Homo sapiens: one gene and its partners. The main gene of each other region encodes a partner of the protein of the gene in region 2 in a complex. Each region holds a gene or a part of one and is shown on either strand. Other genes may lie near its edges.

Region 1 (3,500 bases), on a different chromosome or scaffold from region 2:
ACAGTAGCACGATCTCAGCTTACCGCAACCTCTACCTCCCAGGTTCAAGTGATTCTCCTGCCTCAGCCTCCCGAGTAGCTGGGATTGCCAGTGCCTGCCGCCACGGCCGGCTAATATTTTGTATTTTTAGTAGAGACAGGGTTTTGCCATGTTGGCCAGGGTGGTCTCGAACTCCTGACCTCAGGTGATCCACCCGCTTTGGCCTCCCAAAGTGGTGGGATTGCAGGCATGAGCCACTGCACCCAGCCTTTTTTTTTTTGAGACAGCGTTTCACTCTTGTTGACAAGGCTGGAGGGCAATGGCACAATCTCAGCTCACTGCAACCTCCGCCTCCAAGATTCAAGCAGTTCTCCTGCCTCAGCCTCCCAAGTAGCTGGGATTATAGATATATGCCACCACACCCAGCTAATTTTTTGTATTTTTAGCAGAGACAGGGCTTCACCATATTGGTCAGGCTGGTCTCGAACTCCTGACCTCAGGTGATCCACCTGCCTCAGCCTCCCAAAGTGCTAGGATTACAGGTGTGAGCCACCATGCCTGGCCAGGTTTTTTTTTTTTTTGAGACGGAGTCTCGCTCTGTCGCCCAGGCTGGAGTGCAGTGGCGGGATCTCGGCTCACTGCAAGCTCCGCCTCCCGGGTTCACGCCATTCTCCTGCCTCAGCCTCCCAAGTAGCTGGGACTACAGGCGCCCGCCACTACGCCCGGCTAATTTTTTGTATTTTTAGTAGAGACGGGGTTTCACCGTTTTTTTAGCCGGGATGGTCTCGATCTCCTGACCTCGTGATCCGCCCGCCTCGGCCTCCCAAAGTGCTGGGATTACAGGCGTGAGCCACCGCGCCCGGCCCAGGTTTTTTTAATGAATAAATATTTAAAAAATTTTTCAGTTTCAGTTTCTAATAAATTAAGTATTAATAGATCAAATCCACAGAAAACGAAAGAACACTGTCCACTATTACTGTTACACACTATTATACATAGCCACCTTGCATTGTTGTATCTCACTGAATCTGGGAACCCTATGAGGTAAGTGGTAGTATTCCTGCTCACCAATGAGAACTCAGCTAACTTAATTCCCTTGCCCAAGGTAGCCCAAGTAGGAAGTGGTCAAGCCAGTACTGGCAACAGGGTCTGTCAGATGCCAGAACCCTTGCTTTTAATTGCTATGCTCTACTGAGTCCATAAGTAGGTGTCAAAACATGACAGGCTTCCCATAAATATGGGTTAAGCTGTTCGAGAGAGAACAGCTGATATTTGCAAAGCAATGAATAGAATTGCATGACTTACTTTATATATCTCTTCATATGTTTCTTCATCAATTTCTATAGTAGTCACAGTTTCTTCCACATCTCCCAAGATCATATTTAAATGTTGATCATAAGCCTAAAGTGGGAGGGTACAGAACCAAGAAATTTAATAATCAAATTACAAAAATGATAAAGGCTTAACAATATGCAAATTGCTCAATTACAACTAGGGCATTTGATACTTACATCACAAACTTTTACATGCAAATAAAAAGTAATCCTACAGTACTAATATACTGTTTCTTCACAAGTCACTTCCAATGATTACTTAATTGACCTGATAAAAATATAAAACTGCTTATATTGCCAAAAATAAATTTACTTCAAATCACTTGAAATTATTTTTAAAGTCTCCACCCCACTTGTTATCTAAGGCAGTCACATCATTTATAATATTTAATTATGAAAAACAGCAGATTCATCTTCATCATTTATCAGTAGACATCCTTCAATTTCACCTATAACAATCTGACAAGAAAAATACAGTAAAGAAGATAAAATCCTTTGTTTACTGGTAAGATAATGCCATTGCAGTCTTCTAAAGGCACACAGTAGACCACATGTCGCAGAGAGAAAGTAAGTAGAGCAACACCCTGCCCATTTCTAACCTATCCAGAACTTAAATGTGTTTAGTACCTGTGGGCTCAATCAATAAATGTTACAGCTAAGATATTCAATCCAAGCTCCAAAGTTCATTCATTTTACTAAAAGGTGCACTTTCTGGGACCTTGTTCAGAACTCAAGTTTACTTCTAACAACGTGTTACATGGTTCACCTGCTCACATCAAAATAAAAGTCACTTGTCAGCCATGTGGGGAACTGCTAAGCAGGGCACACTAACAAGATCAAACATGTATAGCTGAGAGGCACAAAACAAACAGAAAGTTGGGGCCATTTAGGATAGAGACCATCAAGTTTACACAGGGAACTGAAGAAGCCTCCAAGAGCCACAAACTTAAGTAATTAAACTCAATTCCATTTGTATTCCCAAAGTTACCACCATTCCTTTCCTGGAGTCTCTCTTCCTTTAAGGCCAGCTGTAGATTGTCTCCCTGGGTCCCTATTTCCTTTCCAAGCCCAGAGGTTCTTTATCTTTAGGTTTTGTGGAAGGCGGAACCACAGTACTTAAGAGTGGGGCTCAGGTCAGACAACCTAGATTCAAATTCTGGCTCTCCCTTTACCGTCAAGTGACTGTACCTTTCTGAGCCTGAGCTTCCTACACTGCAAAGCAGGAATAATTAGTATGTATCATCATAGGGTTGTTATAAAGATTAAATGAGATATCACACACAAAATGCTTAGAATAATAGTACCTGGTCTATAATTAATGCTCAATAAATGTTAGCTATTTTTAATCACTTTAGGGTAGAGTAGCAATACTAAAAACAACACACTTAGGAAAGTAACAAGTCATTAAGGAGAGGCAAAACCTTCAGGGTTCTCTATGAACAAATGGGATTATTTCAAGGGACCAATTCTACAGATATTTTGCAGATATGCACAAAGAAATATGTAAAAAAATGCTTACTGCAAGTATTTACGTATTTGTAGCAAGAAATGAAAAAAAATCGATCACTATCATATACAGAATCCTAGGTAGTCATTAAAAAGAATAAACGAAAATTAAATGCACTCATGATCAATTTCCAAGAAAGATTAAGTGAAAAAAAAAAAAGGTACTGAAAAACATGTATGGCAAGATCCATGTTTTGTAGAGGTAGGGTGTACATAATGCAAGTATGTGCACATGTACATATATGAGTGTATATGTGTAAACATACAGAAAAGGTAACCCAATTTTTAAATTTTATTTTTTGTAGAGACAGGGTCTCTCTATGTTGCCCAGGCTGGCAACACAGAGAACTCCTGGCCTCAAGTGATCCTCCTGCCCCAGTCTCCCAAAGTGCTGAGATTACAGGAATGAGCCACTGCACCTGGCCAAGATAATCCCATTTTTAGTAGTGATTACCAGTAGAAGAAATGGGATTTCACTTTTTACTCTATATATTTTTGTGCTGTTTAACTTTTCCTAATAAAACACATATTTGTGTTTTAAATTTAAAAAACATTTACGAATGGAGGACAAGTAAATATTATTTACAAATAAACAGAAGGGAAAAATGAAGGGAATAAAAATGTTCTATAATAAACGTATTTCTATTAAAAGAAAAAATGTTAAAAATGTGAATACATGCC
Region 2 (2,353 bases):
AGGTCAGGAGAACGAGACCATCCTAACACAGTGAAACCCCGTCTCTACTAAAAAGACAAAAAATTAGCTGGGTGTGGTGGCAGGCACCTGTAGTCCCAGCTACTCGGGAGGCTGAGGCAGGAGAATGGCCTGAACCCGGGAGGCAGAGCTTGCAGTGAGCCAAGATCGCGCCACTGTACTCCAGCCTGGGCAACAGAGCAAGACTGTCTCCAGAAAAAAAAAAAAAAAAAAAAAAAAAACGTGTGGAGAAAAATTACATATTGGTTGTATCTTGTCAAGCCAACTCACCTTTAATATATTTACTATTAAAGAATTGTCTTAAGTCTGGCCAACATGGTGAAACCCCGTCTCTACTAAAAATACAAAAAAATTAGCTGGGTGTGGTGGCGCACGCTTATAATCCCAGCTACTCTGGAGGCTGAGGCACAATAATCTCTTGAACCCGGGACGCAGAGGTTGCAGTGAGCCAAGATCGCACCACTGCACTCCAGCCTGGGTGACACAGCAAGACTCTGTCTCAAAAGAAAGAAAGAAAAAATTGTCTTAATCATCATGAATTTCATACATCCCTTTTTGGATCATAGAACCTGTAATACAACTGGGTGACCACTGCCAATAATTTGTGGGGGAAAAAACGCTAATTACTATATAACTTCAATGACTTACAAAAAAAAATTATCAACTGTGGAAAAATCAAAAAGCATTTGAATTTACTTGATGAGGTAAGATACTTAAAAAAATATATATCTAGTATTTATTTATACCAATATATACATTTATATATCTAATATATATGACAGGTACATTCTACATGTATACTAATATATCTATTAGTATATATTTATATATTAGTATAAATACATATATATATAAATACATATATATATCTCTCTCTCGATTTTTTTTTGAGACGTAGTCTCACTCCATCGCCCAGGCTGGAGTGCAGTGGCACAATCTCGGCTCACTGCAACCTCCGCCTCCTGGGTTCAAGCAATTCTCCTGCCTCGGCCTCATGAGTAGCTGGGATTACAGGCGCCTGTCACTGCACCTGGCTAACTTTTGTATTTTTAGTAGAAATGGGGTTTCACCCTCTTGGCCAAGCTGGTCTTCAACTCCTGACCTCGTGATCCACCTGCCTCGGCCTCCCAAAGTGCTGGGATTACAGGCGTGAGCCACCACACCCAGGCTAAACTTTTTTAAGGTAACGATCTTTGCAGAAAATTTCTTTACTTAAAAAAAAAAAAACTCACATACATGATGAAAATACAGATTTAAGCCACCCACATCCTCAGTTGTTTTCCTTAGCATATAAATACTTCGTAGTAAGCTTTACAAAGAACTGATGCACTGAGAGACATTTTTTCTGAGCTTAGCAAATCAAAAACAATTTTTAAAAGTCCTTATTAACAATTAGAACAGTTTTGCTGTCAAATAAAGTAGGTCTTTTCTCTTTTATTCTCAAAGAACCCCTTAATAAAGGAGGCACTGACAGGTACATTACACATTAATAGGAGATTTTAACACTGCTCATAACTGATAATCTAGTGACCATTAACTCCAAGTTATAACTTGGAAAACATAAAACTATATCCTATTAAGAACTGATTAAAAAGCAAAAGAAACAAAAGTAAGACATTAGCAGCTAGACAACAAAGCAATGACCCTTAATTTAGAAGACAACTTTTTACCAGGTACCTAAGACTCCGTGGAGTAAAACTCAGGAAAGGAGAATCAATTCTAGACCCCATCCCATAAGGACTTTAGTTTCCGAAATACCAAAACAAACTTCTTACTTCCCCTGTGGGTAGGTGCCACAGAATGAAGAGTAAAGCAATAAAATGCATATTCAGTGCATGTGAAGTAGAAGGGTATATATCCTATATATATTGTTAAGTTTAGCCTAAAGTCTCTTTACATATCTCAAGTTCAGCTTAAAGGTTTCTCAGTACATAGAACTGTAGCCTAACTGGACGTGTAAACAGACGGTACCCTACTCTTGTGGCAATCACTAAGTTTCAGCCAACCAAAGACAGCGAACTGTTCAAACCATATTCAAATAAGGCAAACGCTGAACTGTAACTAATCCGGCTGTTGCTGTATCTCACTTCCATTTTCCATACATCACTTTCCTTCTGTCCATAAATCTTCAACTATGCAGCTGGGCTGAAGCCTCTGAGCCTATTATGGTTCAGGGGCTACCTGATTTGTGAATTGTCCTTTGCTCAATTAAACTCTGCCAAATTTAATTTGTCTAAGGCTTTTATTTTAACCTTATTCATCATAAAAAGAAAAAGAAAAATTTTAGTTCAAAAACTTAAAACCTGATCAACTAAAAATGAAACTGCCCAGTAGA
Region 3 (3,500 bases), on a different chromosome or scaffold from region 2:
TGGCTAAACTCCCAGTGTGGTTTCTCCCACTCAGTCTTCTCTATTTGGAAATTTCCAAAATTCAACTATAAGCAATTACTCTATACAGTTTAGAGTCAATGAGCCCCTACACTGCTACCACTTGGTCTGTGAAGACTGCCAACTTTCACTCAGTGCCACAATGTACTGGATACTGACTCAGGTGCTAACTATACAGTGATGACTAGGAATCAGTTCTTGATTTCAAGTAGCTTAGTCCTGGGGAAACAACAGAGAGTACTGGCAAACTATAATCCATTATATTACCTATCACTATAGCAGTAAGCACAGAGGGCTAGAGGGGACTTTGTAACGGGCATCTAACTAAGCTTAGAGGATCAGGGAAGGCTTCATTAAAAAAAGGTAATATGTAAATTGAGTCCTCAGTTAATCAGGTCAAGGGGGTCAAGAATGAGAAAATGTCAGGCAGAGGGTTAAACAAATAAGGCCTGGAGGTAAGAAAAACATGTTGAGCTTGCAGTCACAAATAATTCAATATGGCTGGAGCGTAGAACATAGAAGAGGACTGGTGAAGAATAGGGCTGCAAATGCAAGGAGGAGCCAGGTCACAAAGAATTGCTAATGCCACGCTCAGGAGGATTTACAGATGAGAAAGATCCCTGAAACAGTACAAAGAATGGATTAAAAGGGAAGAATAATGGCAGGGAAATCAGACAGTACTGTTGTAGTGACGCTCTGAGTCACAACCGTGGACTGAAATTCAGATAGTAGCAGTAGTGACTCAAAGGATTCATTTAAGGAACATAATAATGAATAAGATAGACTTTGCTGGTGGAAAAAACAAACTAAACAATAATAAAAAAGTATACCCTTTGAAAAGGCTAATAAAATAACATACTATGACAGAGAACAGAGGGGTTAGGTGTGACGAAAGGCTTCTTTGAATAGGTGGCATCTATGCTGAAACGAAAGAATAAGAAGTTTGACAGGGATCCAGGTTAATAAAAAATGAAGAAGAAAGGCCGGGCGCGGTAGCTCACATCTGTAATCCCAGCACTTTGGGAGGCCCAGGCAGGCGGATCACTTGAGGAGGTGTTGAGAGGATCACTTGAGGAGGTGTTCAACACCTGGCCAACGTGTTGAAACCCCGTCTCTACTAAAAATACAGAAATTAGCCAGGCATGGTGGCACATGCCTGTAGTCCCAGCTACTTGGGAGGCTGAGGCAGGAGAATGGCTTGTACCTGGGAGGTGGAGGTTGCAGTGAGCTGAGATTGCACCACCGCACTCCACCCTGGGTGACAGAGCGAGACTCCGTTTCAAAGAAAAAAAAAGGAAGAAAAAAAGCCTCTAAAAGACAAGACAGAAGAATAAAAGTAGACCAATTATGTGGAAAGACATAAAAAGAACTAGCATATTCCATAAGGACCAATGTGGCTATTCTAGTAAATTGGGGAAGGGAGACATGAGTAAGGCTGAAGACCTTACAGACCATGGTAAGAGTTTTTTACTCCAAGTATGAGAAGACAATCTAGGATTTTAAGCAAGCAATTAACACAACATGTTTGGGGCTATCACAACAGTGCAGATTTGAAAGCAGTAAAGATAGAGCAAAGAAGATAGCTGGAGTTGTATCTCGCAAGTAGAACAGACCAGATTTTGCTAATGGATTATAAAGGAGGCTAGGCAGATTTTCAACTAAGAATTGTATGAGTATAGGAGAGAGGTGGGGAAATATTTCAATTCAGATGTCTCAAGTTTGAAGTACCTGTGGGATACCTAAGCTGCAGTGAGAGATTTGGGAATCATCAGAACACACAGTGAATGATGCCATGGGAGTAGAGCTGATCACCAAGGGCAAGTAGAGAAAAAGGCAGCCTGTAAAGGGCAGGCAGAGAAAAAGAGGTTTAGAAGGTAAGTGAGAAGAATTAGCTAGTGAGAGAAGAGGAAAATCAAGAGGATTTGTTATTAGGAGAGTGAAGGAAAGGGAGTAGTTCAAGGAGGGAGTATTTCAAGGAGGAGTGGCTGGCAGTATACTAGGGCTATTCTTAGTAAAGGTGGATTGGTGATCTTAACAAAGAGCAATTTTAATGTGGTAGGGGTTGGTCAGTTTGCAGCAGGTTGAAGAGTAAATAAGGGTAAGGACCTCAAGGGAGTAATAGAAAAAACCCTTCCAACAAGCTGGATGATGAAGGGTAGATGAGACAGTGGACAGAGAGACCAGAGGGGCTCCTCATAATTGTGTGTGACTAGACCACAACTAAGACTTCGCAACCTGCAAATAACAAGAGGGCATTATCTGAGGATGGTACCCCTCTTCAATAAAATCCAAGAAACATTTATCATTGTTCTATGTCATTGATATGGAATGCATTTGATGTCTCAATTTTCAAAGCCCAACAACAAATGTTTATCCAATTCAAAACTCGCACTGGGGAGGGGAGGCAAGGGAGCATGTTAGCACCCTCTTCCAAGTCTATAAAGAAAAACGGGCCAGGCACGAAGGCTCACGCTTGTAATCCCAGCACTTTGGGAGGCCAAGGTGGGTAAATCATTTGAGGTTAGGAGTTCAAGACCAGCCTGGCCAACATGGTGAAACCCTGTCTCTACTAAAAATACAAAAATATAAAAAATAACTAAAAATACAAAAAAGAAAAATGTGGTGGCAGGTGCCTGTAATCCCAGCCACTTGGGAGGCTGAGGCAGGAAAATCGCTTGAACCCGGGAGGCGGAGGCTGCAGTGAGCCGAGATCACGACGCTGCACTCAAGCCTGGGTGACAGAGCAAGACTCTGTCTCAAAACACAAAACAAAACAAAACAAAACAAAACAAAACAAAACAAAAACGAACAAACACAAAAAAGAAACATTAATAGTGCGGTAAAAATTGGCCTAAGACAGATTATGGGCTAACTCATATAAACACAGTAAGATATTGTTAACATGATTTGAGACATTCTATTAAAGTTCAACTAAATGATCAACCAAAATTTGGAGTAGAACCCTGTGATTATAATAAAGAAAAAAAGTAAATATTTAGAAAGGCAACCTTTCTCTTCTTTCAGCAGGACCCTCTCCAAAAAGTGTGATGGGTTCCCCCAAGGCTCTAAGGCAAGCTTTGACCTCTGAGTCATCTGTGGAAACATTGATCTGCCGGGCTCGCTTCCTTCTCTCAAACTCAGCCAATACTTCTGCCTGTCGCTCGCTGATATGCTCTTCAATTTCAAACACTTCTCCTATTAAAAAGAAAACAGGCAACATCAGCAGATCTTCTTCAAATAGAGAGAAATAATTTCTAGTAATTGCAGTCTGTGTATGCCCTGAGGGAAAAGTAACTGTCTATTACACATTTTATAGTTTACTGTTTTTCAGTTTATTAAATTATGCCAAACACATAAACCTAAATGACACAGCTTCAAAAGGCAAGAAAATGGTTCAAGCCACCTCTTGTTTCATTTATTAACTTTGTGCCTATATAAACACACACTTTGGCTGAGACCAGCAAGTAAGAGTACAGAACATC
Region 4 (3,230 bases), on a different chromosome or scaffold from region 2:
CCCAGGGAGGCTGGCAGGTCACCCCATCCTGGGAGGAGAGAGAGTGGGCGATAGAACCCAGGACGGGTGGGCCTGGGGCTCGGGGCTCCAGCTGCCTCACTGCACCCCTGCCATCGCCACCGCCTCACAGCCCTGGGCATATGGGTTAAACCTGCCCCAGGGAGCCTGATGTCTTGTCACCCAGGCCTCTGCCTCTTCATTTGGCCATCTCACATCGGTCCAGGCACAGGCCGTAGACACCACAGGCCTGTAAGGGAGGCCAGGGCTGGCCATCGCTTCACTGTGGCTGACAGCTGGGCTCTGTTTGCAGTTTGGATTGGAACCCTGGCTCCATCACCTGCTGGCTGTCTCCCTGGCCACATGACTTGAAGCCTTGGTTTCCACATCTGAAAAGGGGGTGCAATGATCACACCAGCCCGATATTTGAATATTTGATGAGATGATCCGAGGGGCGTGCTTAGCATGGGGCTGGCATCCAGGCCGAGTGCACTCCCCCCGGCGTCTCCACAGTCACCACCGTCCTCGTTGTCAGCGTGCCTTACTGTCATCCTTACCTGATGGCCACTTATCAGCTGGGACATGGCTCTGTGCCCTGCCCTCATCCCCTCTTCCTGTGAAGTAGGAGCTGAGAGCACACACCTCTAGAGCCCAAGGGTGGAAAGCCCCCTTCCAGGACCCCAGGTAGAGCCAGAGGAGGAGCGCGCGCGGTTGCTTTGCTGTTACCTCTGTCTGTCTGTCTCACACAGATTCCACCCCCGTTTTCCGTTGCTCCAGGATCTGCGGCGGAAAGCGGCCCGGCTGGTGGCCGCCAAGTGCACACTGGCAGCCCGTGTGGACAGTTTCCACGAGAGCACAGAAGGGAAGGTGAGGAGGGAAAGGTGAGGGGCGGCCGGGCGTCTTTTCCTCTGGGCCTGGGGTGTCTCTGCAGGGAGACCCTCAGCAGGGAGCCCACCCCAGCGAGCACTGTCCTACCAAGGCGGAGGCAGTGCTTCTGCCCACCCTCCCTGGGGTCAGGCACCCCCTTCCCCAGTGGGGTTTCCTAGGTCTGCTGTTGGAAGGTAGCATGAACCTACTGGCTTAAAACAGTGCAGGTGTGGCCGGGTGCAGTAGCTCACGCCTGTAATCCCAGCACTTTGGGAGGCCAGGGTGGGCGGGTCACAAGGTCAGGAGTTTGAGACCAGCCTGGCCAACATGGTGAAACCCCATCTCTACCAAAATTAGCCGGGTGTGGTGGCACGCACCTGTAATCCCAGTTACTCAGGAGGCTGAGGCAGGAGAATTGCTTGAACCTGGGAGACGGAGGTTGCAGTGAACTGAGATTGCATCATTGCACTCCAGCTTGGGTGACATAGCGAGACTCCATCTAAAAACAAAAACAAAAAACAGTACAGGTTTATTATCTGTGGTCCTGTAGGTCAGAAGTCCAAAATGAGTTTCACTGGGCTGAAGTCAGGGTGTCATCCTGGAGCGTTCCTTCTGGGGGATTCAAGGGATAATCCATTCCCTGGTCTTTTCCAGCTTCTAGGGGTCACTGGCACCCCTTAGCTCGTGGCCCTCCCTCTGTCTGCGGAGCCAGCCACATAGCACCCTCAGACCTCTCTCTGACTCTGCTTCTGTCTTCATATCTCCGCCTCTGTTTTTGTTCCCCTCTTCTATTTTAAGGGCCCCTGTGGCTATACTGAGCCTACTCAGATGGTCCAGGATAGTCTTCCCAGCTCACAATCCTTAAAATCCTTCTTAACCTCTTCACGTCCCTTTTGCCCTGTGATTCTGGGAATTAGAACATGGGCCTCTTTGGGCATGTGTGTGTTGGTGGGGGCGTAATTTGCCTTCCACACCAGGATCTGTCCCCGCTGCAACAGGGGATGTTATTCAAGTAATTATTCAGTTACCTTCTGTCTTCCTTGGTAGATGTACTCGGGAGAGGAGACGTTTTCTGTCTTGTGAACTGTCGTTTGCCAAGCACCCGGCCTGGCACAGCGTTCAGGTGTTCCGTGTCCCCTTCTCCTTTCCCTCTCCCCATCTCACCCCTGGTCTGGGTGTGGGGGTGCAGCTGTGAGTAGCACAGACAGGACCCCTGCCCCGTGGCGTGGACATTCTTGTTGGGGCCGGGTCAAAGAGACAGTCAACAGGTGAACTCTGTCCTGCGTCTAGCGGTGCTAAGTCAACACCAAGAAGAAAAAGAAAGGGGGTGGCGGTGAGGCAGCATTAGGTGCTGATTTAACTAAGGCACGTGGATACTCGGGGGGCCCGCTCAGAGGAGGCCTGGGTGGGCAGCCCACGCGAGCAGCTGCAGGACCTCCCCCTCGCCCTCCCCAGGTGGGCTACGAACTGAAGGATGAGATCGAGCGCAAATTCGACAAGTGGCAGGAGCCGCCGCCTGTGAAGCAGGTGAAGCCGCTGCCTGCGCCCCTGGATGGACAGCGGAAGAAGCGAGGCGGCCGCAGGTGAGGGGCCCTGGGGGTCCGGTAGGCATGGGGGTCATGGAGGGGAGAAGCCGGCGTCCTCCTCCCAGCCGACTCCCTGGCGCCGCCCACCCACCCGTCCCCAGGTACCGCAAGATGAAGGAGCGGCTGGGGCTGACGGAGATCCGGAAGCAGGCCAACCGTATGAGCTTCGGAGAGGTCAGACTCCCAGAGCGCCCTCCTCAACCCCACAGCCAGCCAGCCGCCACCGCCCTCTGCCTCCTGCCACCGCCCCTCCTCTCGTCCTGTGGCCCTGGCTCATGTCTAGGGCGCTGCCCCAGCCTCCCCCCCCCCGGCCTCTATTCTCGTTTCCATCCGTTCAGCCCCAAAGCGACCCTCGCGACCCTTGGAGCCTGTGTCTCCGCTGCTTAGAGCCCCCGCGGCTTCCCATCGCCCCGGGCTCCTTGGCCGGTTCCTCCCTGCCCAGAGGCTCCTTAGTGCCCTGCTGCACGGCCGCCCCGTCCCTGGGCCCCGCCAGTCTCCTCTGTTATCCCAGCGTCATCCCCTTGGTCCTGCAGGACCGAACTCAGAGGCCACCTCATCCTATTAAACCTGTTCTGGTTCCTGACATCCCCCGACCCACACGAGTAAGGAAGGAATGGCCTCCCAACTCTGAGCTCACAGAGCAGTGCTGGGACCGGGCCCCTCTCAGGCTCCCCAGCATCCCCCGCGTGTGTGGGCCCCCAGGCCTCAGCCGGGCCGAGTGGGTACCGGAGCAGGTGCCCGTGGGACCGGCCGGCTGGTGACCGCTGGGCTTCGGGCTGG
Region 5 (3,500 bases), on a different chromosome or scaffold from region 2:
AGCGCTTATGACATTGCCTGGCATATGGTGAAATCTCAACAAGTATTTATCATTATCCCTGGATATAGAAGTAGTTAAATTTATTGTAGTACCTGGCCAGTCATAGATGTTTAGTAAGTATTTATTGACTGAATAACATTCTTCTCATTTTCTCATTGTTATATATTTAATAGTTCCTCAGTTATTGAATGTTTTATGATTATAGTATCTTTCATCTGATTTTTAAGGCATGAATCCCATCACAGAAATACATAGTGCTGAAAAAGCTTAATTGGGTATGAACCAACTCTTCAGGGCCACAGAGAAAAGCTCCATTTTATGACCACAGTTTACATACTTCAGGCCAACCAGCTGGGTCCTTAGTTGTTTAAAGACTAGGGAACAAAGAGGCTCAAAGGGAAGGAAAGGGGAGGCTCTACGAGTACATACTCGATCAATGGGATGAATACTGTCCACAAGCAGAGCATCTTAATTCCCAATCCACAGGATATATATACACGTAGCAAAAGCTGGACTTTGCTCTTTAGATCCAGATATTGCATACTAGTTAAGCTTTCATCCCAAGTAAATCTAGATTAAAAAACTATGCTATCTTGTATTTCCATTCAGGACAGCCAAGAGAAAAATGGATGAACAGAGTTTCTTCGGTGGATTGCTTCATGTGTGCTATGCTCCAGAATTTGAAACAGTTGAAGAAACTAGAAAAAAACTACAAATGCGGAAGGCATATGTAGTAAAAACTACTGAAAATAAAGGTATGGAAAGCATATTGCTAAATGCCTCCTGTGTGTCAGGCACTCTGCCAGGTGTGTCATCATGCAATTCCCAGTCTAGTGGTAGGAGAGGCAAGTAAACCATCACAGTATTCAGTAACTGTGAACCACAGGGTTCTCTGCAGCACACTACATAATCTGGGTTGAGAAGGGAGAAATATTGGTTCATAGAAGACTTCCTATAGTATGTGAGAAGTGGCTGAATTTTAAAGGATAAGTAGACGTTAACTAAATGGGAGAGGAAAAGATGGAAAGGCAAGCCAGGCAAGATGTTTAAATGTTTAGAGGAATAAATGAGCATCATGCATTTAAGGAACTTTAATTAATACAGTATAACCAAAGCCCAAAGGTTTCAGTGAGAGATAAGTTTAGAAAAGTGGGTAAGAAGTGAATCATGGAGGGCCTTGTGTCCCATGCTAAGGAATTAAGGCTTTGACCAGAATGCAGTGAGAAGCAGTTATGATTTGCAGTTGTCAAATCATATAGTTGTCACTGCTAATCATGGAGAAGTTCTACTTTTGACCAGCAATTGGCTAAATGCCCCCACATGCCTGTTCTACCACATAGTGATGGAGAGAAATAAAGTGGGAAAACTCTTGGAAAACTTACTCAGAAATCTGGTAAGAGAGCTGTTGAGAATCCCCAGTCATCTGCAGACATTGAACTCTAACTTGTAAGATAAGTAAATAAATAGCACCAGGAAAACTTGTATGTTTGTGTGGCAAAGGAAATTATAAAATATTAATGTGGAGAAAGACCTTTGACATTATCTGACCTGGGTCCTAATTTTTCTGGGTGAGGAAACTAAGTCTCAGAAAGTTTGTGACCTGCCTATATTATTAGAGATGAATTAAAGACAAAATAAGGGTTAAAACCCAAGCTTTGGACTCTGTCCAGAGTTTACTTTTTAACTGCTTTAATCATCTCAGTGTTGGTGACAGCCTAGGATTATCTTCATTATTTGCTCCCCTTCCTCTTAAGACCTTTTTGCTGTGCTGCTGACCTCAGAATTAAACTATGACTTGTTTGGCCTTGGACACTTTAGTTAAGCTCTCTTTCATCTGCAGCATTCTAGCCTCTACAAGATGCATTTGTATACGTGGTCTTACTTTTCAAAAACTCTTATTATGGAAATTTCAAAACACACAGGCAGAGAGACTAAGTTAACATAACTCCCATGTATTAATATTAACATTAACAATCATCAACACATAGCCAATTTCATCTTTACCACATCTTCCATACTCCATTCCTGTTGTAATCTGCTTTTGGGAGAGTAAACCAGGGAAGAGGCCCTTGCCAGCCCTAGAAGTGCGACAAGCATATTGCTTTCTTTAGTGACTAACAAACACAAGCCAAGGAGCATGATACATCCAGATAGTGGAATACTCTGAAATTGTAAAAAAAAAAAAAAAAAAAAAACCTTTCTATATAATGATGAAAAACCTCTGTAAGATCTACAGTGAAATGGAAAATGCAGAGGTGCAGAGAAATGCGTATTACAGGTTATCTTAAAGTGGGGAGAAAATGGGAGGAAGGAGGTGGCAAAGTGAGACATATTGAACAGATAAATAAAAAACAATAGTGATTACTTATGGGGATGAAACCAGACCCATGGAGAGCAAGGAAAGGGTGACACTTGATGCTATATATCTTTTTATCCGTTTTAGGTTTTAAACCATGTGAATATATACCCTTCTCAAGAAATGATTTTTTTGGAGTAGAATTTGTTAACATTTTTAAGTGATTTTTTTAAATTATATGATTCTGAATGATGAAAACAATAAACCACTTCTGTTTCCCTTTCCCTCAACTTTTAAATTGTAATATAAAGACCATTACGTGACAAAGAAGAAATTGGTTACAGAGCATAAAGACACAGAGGATTTTAGACAAGACTTCCACTCAGAGATGTCTGGATTTTGTAAAGCTGCTTTGAACACTTCTGCAGGGAACTCAAATCCTTATCTTCCGTATTCCTGTGAATTGCCTTTATGTTATTTCTCCTCAAAATGTATGTGTTCATCCGGGGGACCTGTAGACAGAGCACCAGACTCCTCTAAGGATGGTAGAAACCATCATAAAACAATGGGGCATTATAACCACAATGACTCTTTGCGGAAAACACAGATAAACTCTTTGAAAAACTCAGTGGCCTGCCCTGGTGCACAAAAGGCTATTACGTCTTCAGAGGCAGTTGACAGATTTATGCCTAGGACAACACAACTGCAGGAGCGCAAAAGAAGAAGAGAAGATGATCGTAAACTTGGAACTTTTCTTCAAACAAACCCAACTGGTAATGAGATTATGATTGGACCTCTGTTACCAGACATCTCTAAAGTGGATATGCACGATGACTCATTGAATACAACGGCGAATTTAATTCGGCATAAACTTAAAGAGGTAAGGTTATTTTTAAAAAACTATTCTAAGACACGATTTGGTTATAGGATTAAATGGAGAATTATTTGTGGGAACAATAGTACTGTAATTTTTTTTCACTTTTTAGTGTTTTGATGTGTTTTTCTACAGTTCTCTGTTGAAATAACTGAATTTGGCTAACATTTTATTTGCTTTAAACTGTTAATACTTGCTTTAAACAATGAACAGACATTTTATATCACTGTAGATACAAAATATTAAAGCAGTGGTTTCAGCCAATTAAATCAATCTGTGAGAGTGGAGCCCAGGCCTGCCATTTTTGTTAAAAGCTCCCCAGGTAGTTCT
Region 6 (3,500 bases), on a different chromosome or scaffold from region 2:
GGGCATCCAGATTGGAAAAGAAGAAGTTAAATTATCCTTGTTTGCAGATGATATGATCTTATATTTAGAAAACCCTAAAGACTCTACCAAAACACTATTGGAACTGACAAATTGATTAAAGTTGCAGGCTATGCCCCCAGGTGTGGTGGCTCACACCTGTAATCCCAGCACTTTGGGAGGCTGAGGGTGGGTGGATCACCTGAGGTCAGGAGTTTGAGACCAGCCTGGCCAACAAAGAGAAACCCTGTCACTATTAAGAATACAAAAATGGCCGGGCACGGTGGCTCACGCCTGTAATCCCAGCACTTTGGGAGGCCGAGGCAGGTGGATGACTGGAGGTCAGGAGTTCGAGACCAGCCTGACCAACGTGGTGAAACCCTGTCTCTACTAAAAAAATTACAAAAGTTGCCAGGCGCTGGGACTCACGCCTGTAATCCCAGCACCTTGGGAGAGTGAGGTGGGTGGATCACTTGAGGTCAGGAGTTTGAGACCAGGCTGACCAACATAGTGAAACCCTGTCTCTACTAAAAATACAAAAATTAGCTGGGTGTAGTGGCACACGTCTGTAATCCCAGCTACTCAGGAGGCTGAGGCAAGAGAATTGCTTGAACCTAGGAGGCAAATGTTGTAGTGAGCTGAGATTGCACCACTGCACTCCAGCCTGAGTGACGGGGCAAGACTCTGTCTCAAAAAAAAAAAAAACCAAAAAACAAAAATTAGCCGGGTGTGGGGGTGCACGCCTGTAGTCCCAGCTAGTTGGGAGGCTGAGGCAGGAGAATCGCTTGAACCCAGGAGGTCGAGGTTGCAGTGAGCTGAGATTGCACCACTGCACTCCAGCCTGGGTAACAGAGTGAGACTCCATCTTAAAATAAAAGAAAATATCCATACTACCCAAAGTAATTTACAGATTCAATGCAATCCGTATCAAAATACTGGGGACATTATTAACAGATAGTGAAAAAATAGCCAGGTGCAGTGGCTCATGCCTGTAATCCCAACACTTTGGGAGGCTGAGGCAGGTGGATCACTTGAGGTCAGCAGTTCGAGACCAGCCTGGCTAAACCCCATCTCTACTAAAAATACAAAAATTAGTTGGGCATGGTGACAGGTGCCTGTAATCCCAGCTACTTGGGAGGCTGAGGCAGGAGAATCACTTGAACCTGGAAGGCAGAGGTTGCAGTCAGCTGAGATCGTGCCATTGCACTCCGGCCTGGGCAACAGAGTGAGACTCCGTCTCAAAAAAAAAAAAAGAAAAAGAAAAAATAATTCTAAAATGTACATGGAGCCAAAAAAGACCCAGAATAGGCAAAGCTATCCTGAGCAAAAGGAACAAAACTGGGGGAACACTTGACTTCAAATTATACTACAGAGCTGTAGTAACAAAAACAGCATAGTACTGGCAGAAAAACAGACACATAGACCAATGGAACAGAATGGACCCAGAAACAAATAGGTACCTCTACAGTGAACTCATTCTTGACAAATGTACCAGGAATATTTATTGGGGAAAAGACAATCTCTTCAATAAACGGTGCTGGGAAAACTGGATATCTATATACAGAAGAATGAAACTAGACCCCTCTCTGTCACCACATACAAAAATCAAATTAAAAGACTTTAAGACCTCAAGCTGAAACTACTAGAAGAAAACATTGGAGAAACTCTACAGGACATTGGACTAGGCAAAGATTTCTTGAGTAATACCCCACAAGCACAGGCAACGAACGGAAGCCAGGTGTGGTGGCTCGCTCCCGTGAGCCAAGAGTGCGCTACTGCACTCCAGCCTGGGCCACAGAGACTGTCTCAAAAAGGAAAAAAATAAAAAGTTCTCATTATAGAATATTAGGAAAATAAGAGTAAGTATGGGTAAAAGCATAACATTTATTCATAAGTCTAGAAAGTAACAGTTAACATTTTGGCTCATTTCCTCTTTCTGTTGCTTTTTTTTATCTTGGCTCACTGCAACCTCTGCCTCCCGGGTTCAAGCAATTCTCCTGCCTCAGCCTCCCAAGTAGCTGGGATTACAGGTGCCTGCCACCACGCCTGGCTAGTTTTTGTATTTTAGTAGAGACGGGGTTTCACCATGTTGGCCAGGATGGTCTCAAACTCCTGGCCTTGTGCTCCATCCACCTCGGCCTCCCAAAGTGCTGGGATTACAGACGTGAGCCACTGCGCCCAGCTCTGTTGCTTTTTATACATGTAATCATAACTTCCTGTGATGTATGTAGAATGTTTTATTTTTTGAAGATAATTTTAGAATAGTAAAATATAGTTCTTCTGGAATTTTATTTATTTTTTATTTTTTTGAGTCTCCCAGGCTCAAGTGATTCTTCTGCCTCAGCCTCCCAAGTAGCCGGGATTATAGGCACGCGCCACCACACCTGGCTAATTTTTGTGTTTTTAGTAGAGACAGGGTTTTACCATGTTGGCCAGGCCGGTCTTGAACTCCTGACCCCAAGTGATCCACCCGCCTCAGCCTCCCAAAGTGTTGGAATTACAGGTATGAGCCACCGTGCCCAGTCTTGCCACACACTTTAAACAACCAGATCTTACGTGATGTAAACTTGCTGCCTCGAGGACAGCACCAGGCCATCAGGGGTCTGCCCTCAAGACTCAAGTGGCCTCCCACCAGGCCCCACCTCAAACATTGGGAATTATAATTCAGCATGAGATTTCATGGGGACACAGATGTAAACCATATCCTTTGGCCTCCCAGAGTGCTGGGATTACAGACATAAGTCAATGTGCCTGGCCTGGACATCTTTTTAGAAGCTCGTTATTAAATCATTGTGCATAAATTTTATACCTATAGTAATTAAACGTGAATGGCATTGCATTTCACTTTTTTTTTTTTTTGGATACAGGATCTTACTCTGTCACCCAGGGTGGAGCGCGGTGGCTTGATTATAGCTCCCTGTAACCTTCAATTCCTGGCTCAAGCGATTCTCCTGCTTCAGCCTCCCAGGTAGCTGGGATTACAAGCACGTGCTACCACACCCAGCTAATTTTTCTTTTTTCTTTTTTTTTTTTTGAGATGGAGTCTCACTCTATTGCCCAGGCTGGAGTGCAATGGCGCAACCTCGGCTTACTGCAACCTCCGCCTCCAGGGTTCAAGTGATTCTCCTGCCTCAGCCTCCCAAGTGGCTGGGATTACAGGCATGCACCGCCACGCCCGGCTGATTTTTGTAGAGATGGGTATTTTTAGTAGAGACGGGGTTTCACCAATGTTAGCCAGGCTGGTCTTGAACTCCTGCCCTTGTGATCTGCCTGCCTTGGCCTCCCAAGGTGCTGGGATTACAGGCTTGAGCCACCACGCCAGGCTCACACCCAGCTAATTTTTGTCTATGTTGCCCAGGCTGGTCTTGAACTCCTGGCCTCAAGTGATCCACCTGCCTCCCCTAACCTTGGCCTCCCAAAGTGCTAGGATTACAGGCATGAGTTACTACACTCAGCCCTACATTTTAAAAATTGATTGGAACCTCCAGGGTTAATGCATTTTA
Region 7 (3,324 bases), on a different chromosome or scaffold from region 2:
TACACAGTAACTTTACAACAGTGTTCACCTTATTTTTGTACCCTTAGAGCTTGATGCACTAAGTACTAGAGTGCTGCTCAGTGAACACAGGCTTTGGGTGGAAGAACTCATGAAGATACCACAATTCAAAAGTTACGTTAGGTTATATGTTACGTGTGTGACCCTGGCAGAAAGTTATGCCAAAATTGTTCCTCTCCCAGCAGAATTTTCATTTTTAGCATTTGCTTCATGGAGAAGCTATCTAGACAAGTGCCTTCCCAAGAGGATATTATGGGTACTGATTTCAACAAAACTGATCTTTGAATCTGATAAGTGAAAATGTTCAATTTTGTAAGTATCTTAGTGTATGAGGATGTACAGATGCAAATGGGTAGTAAAACATTTTATAGGGAAGAAGGTAAGATCAGGGTTAATTTTTTCCAAGGCAACCCTTCTTGACTCTATTAAGCACCCAATATATCAAAGATTTTTCTAAAAATAAAGATCCATAGGTGCAATTATAATGTTCTCTTAAGAGTTTATTATAAACCAGTTTCATAGGCCACAAGGAGATAAAAGGACTATGTACAGCCTTACGGGAAACAGGCAGGGAGCTGAGGAGGGCCAAGATGAGTCTAGGGCCTTGGTGGGCGCATTCCCGGGGGAGGGGGCCCTGTAAGGGAAACCAGACAATCCCATGAGACTCCACGAACAACAGCATAAGAAACAAACAGGTCTGTGGTAACGTGGCCCTGAGGAATCGAGCCCACGCCTCTGCGGAGCTACTTCCATACTCTGTGGCCAAGGGTCAAAGAAGGCCTGAAGTAAGAGTAAGAAGTTTAGTCAGTGCCTGATCTGCAACTTGAATCCCCAACCCTGCCCCAGCCTCCCACGCCCTGCAGTAATCGAGTGAGGAGAGGGGTATACATGGCATATGTGCTAACTAGGGACTACTCTGAGGCTGACTGGGTTCCTATGTCTATAAAAACCCATAGAGGAATAATCCAGACTAGAGAAACAGGGGTCACCAAGTTTGCCCATGGGTTATCTTATAGGGAAAGAACACTGGGCTTGGAGTCCAAACTCCCTGGGGGCCTATTTTCTCATCCATGTGGGGACTGATCTCAGAATTTCTCCAACTGAAGTTAAAGAGAAATCCATAATAGTACAGCAAAGCCCAGAGCCCCCTCTTAATTACTAGGCACTGTCAAACCAAAGAGCATAAGACAATCTCATAACTTCTGTTAGGGATCCTCAGAATGCATTATTTCATTGTGTCCTGAGGCCGCTGCCTTAGATATTGAGAAACACCCTGGGTGCATGGCTGCTCTAACTTTTCTAAGAGGGGAGGTAAGCCCAATTTAAGAAATGTTCCCTCTTCTCTTTCCTTTCTGGATTTCCCTAGATTTAAGGCTTGAAAGCCCATGGGATATGATCTAAATGCAATCTTCCCTCCATTTCCTATCCCACTAGGCTCTAGGGAAAGAAGCCAAAGTCACCACTGCAGGCACTTACCTCGCATCCCAGGGGGAGGAGGCCGCATTCCCGGAGGGGGCATGCCCATTGGAGTCCCTCTTCCAGGGGGGATCCCCATTGGGGGACCCATAGGAGGTCTCATACCAGGAGGTGGGCCCATCATGCCTGCAAGAGAAAAGCCCCAAGAATATAGCTCAAGTGTCTATCTTGAAAAGGTAGCAAAAAAACTACAAAGCTTTCCACCAAGTTCTGAGATAGATGGACCATTCCACCCTCTCAGCAGCTCCCAGAAAACTGACATTTGAGCCTAACACCCAGGGCTCCCAATGGCTCTTGTCCACCTAGTCTCATCAGTCAGCCACGCTGGATCTCAGAGTAATCCTGCTTAATTATACAAACTCATCATCAGCTTCAGTCAAGGTTATATCTCATCATTAATCCAGCTAAGGCATCTTCTATCAATTAGCACTGGTCTCCTTATGGGCTCCTCACCTGGAGGGGGTGCTCCTCGGCCCATAGGTGGGGGAGGACCCCCACGGCCAGGTGGGTACTGGGTTGGAGCCCCGGCAATACTGGCTGTGGCAGCAGCTGCAGCGGCTGCAACAGTACCTCTTCCTTGTGGGGTCATCACCTAAGAGGACATAAGAAGAAAGAGTTAGAAGAGTACAGTACAATGCAGCTTCCCACTCTCCTCCCCAACTTGGGGAAGGACAGTGGGAAATAACAGACACCAAATCCCTTAATGCTACAACTCTCAGCACCAGACTTCCCATCCAAAACCACATGTCGGGAAAGATCAAGCTTGAATGCCCAACTCCCATCTTCTAGACCTGAATGTAAGCATGTCCAATCCAAGTGAGAGAAGGCAACTGCATTTTCAAATATGACTCATGATTTCAAATGCTGTCATGGAAATATTTTCCTTAAATACAGTTGGCTAATTCGTACATCTCTTTAATAGCATCAACATAATTTACAATGGCAACTTATCCTTTTCACTTGCTTCTAGGGCCATGTATAAACCACAGTGAAACACTGATAGTCTGACAATCACAGGTTGGTCACTCTGGACCCTTTTAAAACTATGGACCCTCCCCTTTATCCTTTATTTTAGCCACCAGGAGGTGGTACCCTTTCCCCAACTCCTCACCTGTTGGGATGGCCCGCCAACCCCACGGACTGGCCCAGCAAGTCCTGCAGGAGCCTGGGGCATGGGAACCCCAGCTGGGATTCCTCTGCCAGCAGCCCTGCCGATCCCTGGGCCCCCGGCAGCTCCAGCAAGTGGAACTCGAGCAATACCAGTCTGAAAAATAAACAAATATGCTCTGATGCCCAGTGATCTGAAGATCAGAAGTATACTTTGGAATATCATTGCCAAGAGAGCCCCTCGAAATAGCTTATAAATACTATCGAAATAGCTTATAAATACTACCTCTCCATGTGTGCCAACACCATTCTTCCTCCATCCAAGACTATGAGTTATCCCTGAAGCAGGGTAGAACTTAAGAGTAAGTCTAGAGAAACATGCCACAACTCAACCACCTATATGCACTCCTGTGAAAGTTAAACCAAGAGCAAAGGGCCAGGGTTCCACTCAGGGTTCAGCAGGCAAGGCATTAAAGGGACATGAGATCCATTCCCAGCTGATTCTAATCCGCTAGGTGACAATGGACAAATAATCCCACAATCCCGGGCTGAGTTGCCTTATCTGCAAATGACATGGTTATGGTACAACTGGTTGTGATCACAAAGGTTTATGATGGGTTATGTTAGACCAGCCAATTCTACTGGAAGTAGGTACTAAGAGATTTGAATATGTACATGGACTTTGAACCAAGATATGCTAACATCCCTTGCAGACATTTTTAA

Evidence for each region.
Region 1: SNRPD1 (region 2) and LSM3 share a complex: the UniProt entries of both Homo sapiens proteins name them as parts of the U4/U6-U5 tri-snRNP complex.
Region 3: SNRPD1 (region 2) and PRPF4 share a complex: the UniProt entries of both Homo sapiens proteins name them as parts of the U4/U6-U5 tri-snRNP complex.
Region 4: SNRPD1 (region 2) and PRPF31 share a complex: the UniProt entries of both Homo sapiens proteins name them as parts of the U4/U6-U5 tri-snRNP complex.
Region 5: SNRPD1 (region 2) and RBM48 share a complex: the UniProt entries of both Homo sapiens proteins name them as parts of the minor spliceosome.
Region 6: SNRPD1 (region 2) and PRPF6 share a complex: the UniProt entries of both Homo sapiens proteins name them as parts of the U4/U6-U5 tri-snRNP complex.
Region 7: SNRPD1 (region 2) and SNRPB share a complex: the UniProt entries of both Homo sapiens proteins name them as parts of the SMN-Sm complex.

The regions. Positions count from the first base shown.
Region 1 is NC_000003.12:14,181,817-14,185,316, reverse strand, and holds part of LSM3 (U6 snRNA-associated Sm-like protein LSm3), read right to left. Parts: intron 1,381-3,500; coding exon 1,285-1,380; intron 1-1,284. UniProt on the Homo sapiens protein: Plays a role in pre-mRNA splicing as component of the U4/U6-U5 tri-snRNP complex that is involved in spliceosome assembly, and as component of the precatalytic spliceosome (spliceosome B complex).
Region 2 is NC_000018.10:21,629,314-21,631,666, reverse strand, and holds part of SNRPD1 (small nuclear ribonucleoprotein Sm D1), read right to left. Parts: 3' UTR 1-2,353. UniProt on the Homo sapiens protein: Plays a role in pre-mRNA splicing as a core component of the spliceosomal U1, U2, U4 and U5 small nuclear ribonucleoproteins (snRNPs), the building blocks of the spliceosome.
Region 3 is NC_000009.12:113,278,658-113,282,157, reverse strand, and holds part of PRPF4 (U4/U6 small nuclear ribonucleoprotein Prp4), read right to left. Parts: intron 3,214-3,500; coding exon 3,027-3,213; intron 1-3,026. UniProt on the Homo sapiens protein: Plays a role in pre-mRNA splicing as component of the U4/U6-U5 tri-snRNP complex that is involved in spliceosome assembly, and as component of the precatalytic spliceosome (spliceosome B complex).
Region 4 is NC_000019.10:54,125,754-54,128,983, forward strand, and holds part of PRPF31 (U4/U6 small nuclear ribonucleoprotein Prp31), read left to right. Parts: intron 1-746; coding exon of another isoform or gene 747-774; coding exon 775-864; intron 865-2,319; coding exon 2,320-2,447; intron 2,448-2,551; coding exon 2,552-2,624; intron 2,625-3,230. UniProt on the Homo sapiens protein: Involved in pre-mRNA splicing as component of the spliceosome. Required for the assembly of the U4/U5/U6 tri-snRNP complex, one of the building blocks of the spliceosome.
Region 5 is NC_000007.14:92,531,795-92,535,294, forward strand, and holds part of RBM48 (RNA-binding protein 48), read left to right. Parts: intron 1-609; coding exon 610-755; intron 756-2,443; exon of another isoform or gene 2,444-2,607; coding exon 2,608-3,176; coding exon of another isoform or gene 3,177-3,290; exon of another isoform or gene 3,291-3,500. UniProt on the Homo sapiens protein: As a component of the minor spliceosome, involved in the splicing of U12-type introns in pre-mRNAs.
Region 6 is NC_000020.11:63,987,632-63,991,131, forward strand, and holds part of PRPF6 (pre-mRNA-processing factor 6), read left to right. Parts: intron 1-3,500. UniProt on the Homo sapiens protein: Involved in pre-mRNA splicing as component of the U4/U6-U5 tri-snRNP complex, one of the building blocks of the spliceosome.
Region 7 is NC_000020.11:2,461,142-2,464,465, forward strand, and holds the end of SNRPB (small nuclear ribonucleoprotein-associated proteins B and B'), read right to left. Parts: intron 2,759-3,324; coding exon 2,606-2,758; intron 2,087-2,605; coding exon 1,948-2,086; intron 1,907-1,947; exon of another isoform or gene 1,811-1,906; intron 1,621-1,810; coding exon 1,495-1,620; intron 799-1,494; coding exon 788-798; 3' UTR 653-787; coding exon of another isoform or gene 615-652; 3' UTR 501-614; downstream 1-500. UniProt on the Homo sapiens protein: Plays a role in pre-mRNA splicing as a core component of the spliceosomal U1, U2, U4 and U5 small nuclear ribonucleoproteins (snRNPs), the building blocks of the spliceosome.